Linked DNA regions of Homo sapiens. The main gene of each other region encodes a partner of the protein of the gene in region 2 in a complex. Each region holds a gene or a part of one and is shown on either strand. Other genes may lie near its edges. The genes, in order: HP and HBB. A codon is read from its position in the direction of its gene.

Region 1 (4,132 bases), on a different chromosome or scaffold from region 2:
TTCCAATGGTGTTGAGTGACTTTTTTTTTTTTTTTTTTGACGACGTCTCGCTCTGTTGCCCAGGCTGGAGTGCAGTGGTGCGATCTCAGCTCACTGCAAACTCTGCCTCCCAGGTTCAAGCAATTCTCCTGTCTCAGCCTCCCAAGTAGTAGCTGGGACTGCAGATGCATGCCACCACGCCTGACTAATTTTTGCATTTTTAGAAAATATGGGGTTTCACCATATTCGTATTGGTTAGACTGGTCTCAAACTTCCGGCCTCAGGTGATCCACCCACCTCGGCCTCCCAAGGTGCTGGGATTACAGGTGTGAGTCACTCCCCAGCCTTGAGTATCTTTTATGTGCTTTTTGGCACTTTATGTATATTTTTTGGAGAAATGTCTATTTAAATCCTTTGCCCATGCTTTAATTGTTTGTCTTTTTGTTGTTGTAGTTAGGATATGCTCTGGATAACAACCCTTTATCAGATATAGAATTTGCAAATATTTTCTCCCATTCTGTAGACTGTCTTCACTTTTTTTTTTGAGACAGAGTCTTGTTCTGTCACCCAGGCTGGAGTGCAGTGGTGCGATCTAGGCTCACTGCAACCTCTGCCTCCCAGGTTCAAGCAATTCTCCTGCCTCAGCCTCCGAGTAGCTGGGATTAAAGCATGCGCCACCATGCCTGGCTAATTTTTGTATTTTTAGTAGAGATGGAATTTCACCACATTGGTCAGGCTGGTCTCAAACTCCTGACCTCATGATCCGCCCACCTCAGCCTCCCGAAGTGCTGGGATTACAGGCGTGAGCCACCACGCCTGGCCTGTCTTCATTTTATTAATACTGTCTTTTGATACACAAATGTTCATTCCGATGAAGCCCAATTTATCTAATTTTTCTTTGATTGCTGGTGATTTTGGTGTCATTATCTAAGAATCCATTGCCAAGTTTTACTTGGTTTTGATCTCTAGAAGACTGCCATCATACTGAAGGTAATCTTCTGAAACTTGCGGTTTTCTTTCAAAAATTATGTTTATAAGATGATCCATGTTCTTGCAGAGTTTATTCATTTTATGCTGTATAATATTCCATTATATCCACATACAATGCAGTATTGACCCTTCCTCCTGTTGATGGGCATTTGTCTTGTTTCTAGTTACTTTGCTATTATATCAGTGTCACCATGATTATCCAAAAGTAATTCTTTTGTACACTCTAATTTAAGAACAACTAACCCTTTTTAATGAATAAATCAACCTTGTATTGAGTTGCTACTAAGTTTCAGTTGACTAGTACCTGGGATACACACAGGTGCAGACATTTGACTGAGACATATTGATTTTTCTCATCTGCCTATTTAGGCTAATCACCAGACTATAAAACCATGAGAACCACTGCCATTGAGTATAGTCTGTGTCAGTCTACACTATAGCTTTAACTAGTTGTGTGATTTCTTGCAAAGAGCAATCAGAGAAGACACAATAAACACATTTACTGATTTCAGGCTGGAGAGCTTTTAAGCAATAGGGAGATGGCCACACACAAGGTGGAGAAAATTACTGTGAAAAGGAAGTACTTTCTTTAGAGCCCCACCTAAGCTAGGCTGCAGAAATGTCTACAATGGGTTTGAAAAAACTCAAAATGAGCCTTTCTGCAGTGTGAAAATCCTCCAAGATAAAGAGACAGATTGATGGTTCCTGCCGCCGCCCTGTCCTGCCCAGTTGCTGATTTCAGGAAATACTTTGGCAGGTTTGTGGGTCATAGAGTTGCCAGGTTTCTTGGGATTTGTAATAGAACATCACAAGAAAATCAAGTGTGAAGCAAGAGCTCAACTCTTAACAGGGGTATTGTTTGTGGTTTTGTTACTGGAAAAGATAGTGACCTTACCAGGGCCAAAGTTTGTAGACACAGGAATTACGAAATGGAGAAGGGGGAGAAGTGAGCTAGTGGCAGCATAAAAAGACCAGCAGATGCCCCACAGCACTGCTCTTCCAGAGGCAAGACCAACCAAGATGAGGTGGGTCCACAGCTTTCCCTCCTGCCTTTCCTCTGGTTCTTTATTTCAGTCTTTTTTGCATACATCGGTAGAGATGCAGAAATAGAACAAAGAAACGGGCAAATGGGCTAAATTATAGTGAACCAAAGGGCTTAGTGTGTTAAATCTTCTCCTTTTCTGCATCCATAGAAGACAGTGCTGCTGTCTTTCCCAGGAGATAAGATTTACTCTCAGGAGTGTCTTTTTCCTTCAGGTTACATTTTTGACTTTATAGGGTATGTCATCAGCTCCCGTGGTAGGCTTCCTGGCATCCTGAGTATATTTATTAGCAGATATTTTCCTCTTTAAAAATGTACAATAAGGAAGACTAATAGTAACACATTTGAATGACACAATTAATTGACTAGTACCTGGGATACACACTAATACCTGGGATACATCTAATTAAGGCACTTAGATCTTATAAAAATAAACACTTTTTGAAATGTTGAAATAATAAGACTAGAAACTTTTTTTTTTTTTGAGATGGAGTCTCGCTTTGTCACCAGGCTGCAGTGCAGTGGCATGATCTCGGCTCACTGCAACCTCCACCTCCCAGGTTCAAGTGATTCTCCTGCCTCAGCCTCCCAGGTAGCTGGGACTACAGGCGTGCGCCACTATGCCCACCTAATTTTTGTATTTTTAGTAGAGACGGGCTTTCACCATGTTGGCCAGGATGACCTCGATCTCTTGACCTCGTGATCTGCCTGCCTTGGCCTCCCAAAGTGCTGGGATTACAGGCATGAGCCACCGTGTCTGGCCTAGAAACTATTTTAATAGAAGCAAGTAGTGCCCGAATGGTTGGCATTTGTTAGTGAGATGGTGAACTGGCAGACGGCACCTGTGGGTCAATGCCCATGGCCACCGTCCTGCTTTTGGACACCAGTTCTCTTCCAGGTAACCTTCTGGCATTTTGGGGTTTCAGATACCATTTCCTAAAGGTGAATTATTATAAAATACTAGAAATACCCACGTGTTTAAAATTATATATTTAAGGAACCTTTTATTACGGAAAATATCAAGAAGTAGAGGAATAGCACAGTAAGCCCAAAGTTCCCATCTCTGAGTTATCTACATTTTATTACCACTATCTTTGCGGTGTCTGAGGGAGGTTTCTCTTTCCTGGAGGGCTCCTGTATTATTGCCAATGTACTTTCCTGAATGCAGCCAGAAACTGAGCCCACCCCTCCACCTATGTGCCTTTCTATCCCTCTCTGAAGCTTCTGCAGAATTCCCAGCAGGACAGGGCTTGCTGGAAGCTTGGTATGCTCAGAAGCTGCTAAAGTGTGTATGGGCAGGTGTGGGGGCAATTTCTTGGTCCTAGCACTTCCATATATCGACTTTCTTTTCTGGCTGCTAAGTGGGAGGAGTGTGTGTGTATGCATGTGTGTGTGTGTGTGTGTACATGCATGTGTGTGTGGATGCATGCATGTGCTGTGAAGCAGGGAGACTAGCTTTCCACTCCTCCTTGTCTTCTCTCTGCAGTGCCCTGGGAGCTGTCATTGCCCTCCTGCTCTGGGGACAGCTTTTTGCAGTGGACTCAGGCAATGATGTCACGGATATCGCAGGTCAGTCTTTGGTTGGGTAGGAGTGTGCATCCCACTCTGACCCTCTCGGGTCTGCACTCTCTCTGAGAACACCCAATTCCCCCTTCTTATCTCGACCTCTGGGCTTTCAGGACCATAAAGAACATTGGGGTTCCTGCCAGAAATGAGGGGAGCTTGCCTTTCCATTGGCTTCTATTCGGGGTGGAAGGAGATTGATGTGCAGAGCAGCTCCCGCTCATCTGACTTTTCACGGTTCACTGGGAACAATTTCCAAATAGCAAACTCTCTGGCTTCTCTCTCTTTGCAGATGACGGCTGCCCGAAGCCCCCCGAGATTGCACATGGCTATGTGGAGCACTCGGTTCGCTACCAGTGTAAGAACTACTACAAACTGCGCACAGAAGGAGATGGTAAGATGTGGACAACTGTCTCCATGCCCTACATACAACCCCCTTCTCTGACATTTCCATGATGGGTGGTGCTGAGGTGATTCGCCAGAAAGTTCGTTGCTCTCCTTGGAGCCAGGAGATTTAGATTCTAATAAGCGTTTTGTCGCCAGTAGCCATGGCCCTTT
Region 2 (3,600 bases):
GTAGACCTCTATAAGACAACAGAGACAACTAAGGCTGAGTGGCCAGGCGAGGAGAAACCATCTCGCCGTAAAACATGGAAGGAACACTTCAGGGGAAAGGTGGTATCTCTAAGCAAGAGAACTGAGTGGAGTCAAGGCTGAGAGATGCAGGATAAGCAAATGGGTAGTGAAAAGACATTCATGAGGACAGCTAAAACAATAAGTAATGTAAAATACAGCATAGCAAAACTTTAACCTCCAAATCAAGCCTCTACTTGAATCCTTTTCTGAGGGATGAATAAGGCATATGCATCAGGGGCTGTTGCCAATGTGCATTAGCTGTTTGCAGCCTCACCTTCTTTCATGGAGTTTAAGATATAGTGTATTTTCCCAAGGTTTGAACTAGCTCTTCATTTCTTTATGTTTTAAATGCACTGACCTCCCACATTCCCTTTTTAGTAAAATATTCAGAAATAATTTAAATACATCATTGCAATGAAAATAAATGTTTTTTATTAGGCAGAATCCAGATGCTCAAGGCCCTTCATAATATCCCCCAGTTTAGTAGTTGGACTTAGGGAACAAAGGAACCTTTAATAGAAATTGGACAGCAAGAAAGCGAGCTTAGTGATACTTGTGGGCCAGGGCATTAGCCACACCAGCCACCACTTTCTGATAGGCAGCCTGCACTGGTGGGGTGAATTCTTTGCCAAAGTGATGGGCCAGCACACAGACCAGCACGTTGCCCAGGAGCTGTGGGAGGAAGATAAGAGGTATGAACATGATTAGCAAAAGGGCCTAGCTTGGACTCAGAATAATCCAGCCTTATCCCAACCATAAAATAAAAGCAGAATGGTAGCTGGATTGTAGCTGCTATTAGCAATATGAAACCTCTTACATCAGTTACAATTTATATGCAGAAATATTTATATGCAGAGATATTGCTATTGCCTTAACCCAGAAATTATCACTGTTATTCTTTAGAATGGTGCAAAGAGGCATGATACATTGTATCATTATTGCCCTGAAAGAAAGAGATTAGGGAAAGTATTAGAAATAAGATAAACAAAAAAGTATATTAAAAGAAGAAAGCATTTTTTAAAATTACAAATGCAAAATTACCCTGATTTGGTCAATATGTGTACACATATTAAAACATTACACTTTAACCCATAAATATGTATAATGATTATGTATCAATTAAAAATAAAAGAAAATAAAGTAGGGAGATTATGAATATGCAAATAAGCACACATATATTCCAAATAGTAATGTACTAGGCAGACTGTGTAAAGTTTTTTTTTAAGTTACTTAATGTATCTCAGAGATATTTCCTTTTGTTATACACAATGTTAAGGCATTAAGTATAATAGTAAAAATTGCGGAGAAGAAAAAAAAAGAAAGCAAGAATTAAACAAAAGAAAACAATTGTTATGAACAGCAAATAAAAGAAACTAAAACGATCCTGAGACTTCCACACTGATGCAATCATTCGTCTGTTTCCCATTCTAAACTGTACCCTGTTACTTATCCCCTTCCTATGACATGAACTTAACCATAGAAAAGAAGGGGAAAGAAAACATCAAGCGTCCCATAGACTCACCCTGAAGTTCTCAGGATCCACGTGCAGCTTGTCACAGTGCAGCTCACTCAGTGTGGCAAAGGTGCCCTTGAGGTTGTCCAGGTGAGCCAGGCCATCACTAAAGGCACCGAGCACTTTCTTGCCATGAGCCTTCACCTTAGGGTTGCCCATAACAGCATCAGGAGTGGACAGATCCCCAAAGGACTCAAAGAACCTCTGGGTCCAAGGGTAGACCACCAGCAGCCTAAGGGTGGGAAAATAGACCAATAGGCAGAGAGAGTCAGTGCCTATCAGAAACCCAAGAGTCTTCTCTGTCTCCACATGCCCAGTTTCTATTGGTCTCCTTAAACCTGTCTTGTAACCTTGATACCAACCTGCCCAGGGCCTCACCACCAACTTCATCCACGTTCACCTTGCCCCACAGGGCAGTAACGGCAGACTTCTCCTCAGGAGTCAGATGCACCATGGTGTCTGTTTGAGGTTGCTAGTGAACACAGTTGTGTCAGAAGCAAATGTAAGCAATAGATGGCTCTGCCCTGACTTTTATGCCCAGCCCTGGCTCCTGCCCTCCCTGCTCCTGGGAGTAGATTGGCCAACCCTAGGGTGTGGCTCCACAGGGTGAGGTCTAAGTGATGACAGCCGTACCTGTCCTTGGCTCTTCTGGCACTGGCTTAGGAGTTGGACTTCAAACCCTCAGCCCTCCCTCTAAGATATATCTCTTGGCCCCATACCATCAGTACAAATTGCTACTAAAAACATCCTCCTTTGCAAGTGTATTTACGTAATATTTGGAATCACAGCTTGGTAAGCATATTGAAGATCGTTTTCCCAATTTTCTTATTACACAAATAAGAAGTTGATGCACTAAAAGTGGAAGAGTTTTGTCTACCATAATTCAGCTTTGGGATATGTAGATGGATCTCTTCCTGCGTCTCCAGAATATGCAAAATACTTACAGGACAGAATGGATGAAAACTCTACCTCGGTTCTAAGCATATCTTCTCCTTATTTGGATTAAAACCTTCTGGTAAGAAAAGAAAAAATATATATATATATGTGTGTATATATACACACATACATATACATATATATGCATTCATTTGTTGTTGTTTTTCTTAATTTGCTCATGCATGCTAATAAATTATGTCTAAAAATAGAATAAATACAAATCAATGTGCTCTGTGCATTAGTTACTTATTAGGTTTTGGGAAACAAGAGATAAAAAACTAGAGACCTCTTAATGCAGTCAAAAATACAAATAAATAAAAAGTCACTTACAACCCAAAGTGTGACTATCAATGGGGTAATCAGTGGTGTCAAATAGGAGGTTAACTGGGGACATCTAACTGTTTCTGCCTGGACTAATCTGCAAGAGTGTCTGGGGGAACAAAAAGCCTCTGTGACTTAGAAAGTAGGGGTAGGAGGGGAAAAGGTCTTCTACTTGGCTCAGATTATTTTTTTCCTCTAGTCCACTAAGAATACTGCGTTTTAAAATCATTTCCTTGATTCAAGTTCCTATTTCTCTTTATATTTTGTTTGTTTAAACCTCCTTTACTAAAATTTACTCTTCTTTCTCTATAGCTTCCCAACGTGATCGCCTTTCTCCCATCCCCCTGTACTTTTTCCCCTTGTACTAAATTAACTCCTCAGGTGAGGAAAAACTTTTGAAGTGCAGAGTTCTGCTTCCTGCTATTAAAAGATGTAATTAAAACAGCAAAGGTAGCAAGCATTTATGAGGTCAGCGTAGGGTCTCAGTGTTCCCTAAGGGCCCTGTCAGTCATCCTGAATCCTGCCCCTACCTGGAAACCCATGTCGGTTTAGTAAGGAAAGTGTTATACTTTTACTTTGCATGTTTCTCCTACTTCTTCCTTTCAGCTCTAACACTCTGAAACTACGATTACACAAAATAAAATAAAATAAAATAAAATAAAACAATAAAATGAAATAAAATTTAGGTTAACCAAAAGAAACTGGATCCTCTATTTCTAGTTATCAGAAGGAAATTTACAAATTTCTTATTTCCATTGCTTTATTCTCTT

The links.
Region 1: the proteins of HBB (region 2) and HP are in contact, whole or in part, in a crystal structure (PDB 6TB2), measured with the Homo sapiens proteins. Residues at the interface, in NP_000509.1 of Homo sapiens: Tyr36 (codon at 1,792), Pro37 (codon at 1,789), Trp38 (codon at 1,786), Arg41 (codon at 1,777), Glu44 (codon at 1,768), His98 (codon at 1,606), Val99 (codon at 1,603), Asp100 (codon at 1,600), Pro101 (codon at 1,597), Glu102 (codon at 1,594), Arg105 (codon at 1,585), Leu106 (codon at 732), Asn109 (codon at 723), Tyr146 (codon at 612); in NP_005134.1 of Homo sapiens: Gly164, Gly165, His166, Leu167, Ala169, Asn287, Ala288, Asn289, Lys291, Asp294, His295, Lys297, Tyr346, Gln347, Glu348.

Annotation. Positions count from the first base shown.
Region 1 is NC_000016.10:72,052,664-72,056,795, forward strand, and holds the start of HP (haptoglobin isoform 1 preproprotein), read left to right. Parts: upstream 1-1,841; 5' UTR 1,842-1,989; coding exon 1,990-1,994; intron 1,995-3,497; coding exon 3,498-3,580; intron 3,581-3,866; coding exon 3,867-3,968; intron 3,969-4,132. UniProt on the Homo sapiens protein: As a result of hemolysis, hemoglobin is found to accumulate in the kidney and is secreted in the urine. Haptoglobin captures, and combines with free plasma hemoglobin to allow hepatic recycling of heme iron and to prevent kidney damage.
Region 2 is NC_000011.10:5,224,995-5,228,594, forward strand, and holds HBB (hemoglobin subunit beta), read right to left. Parts: upstream 2,078-3,600; 5' UTR 2,028-2,077; coding exon 1,936-2,027; intron 1,806-1,935; coding exon 1,583-1,805; intron 733-1,582; coding exon 604-732; 3' UTR 470-603; downstream 1-469. UniProt on the Homo sapiens protein: Involved in oxygen transport from the lung to the various peripheral tissues. LVV-hemorphin-7 potentiates the activity of bradykinin, causing a decrease in blood pressure.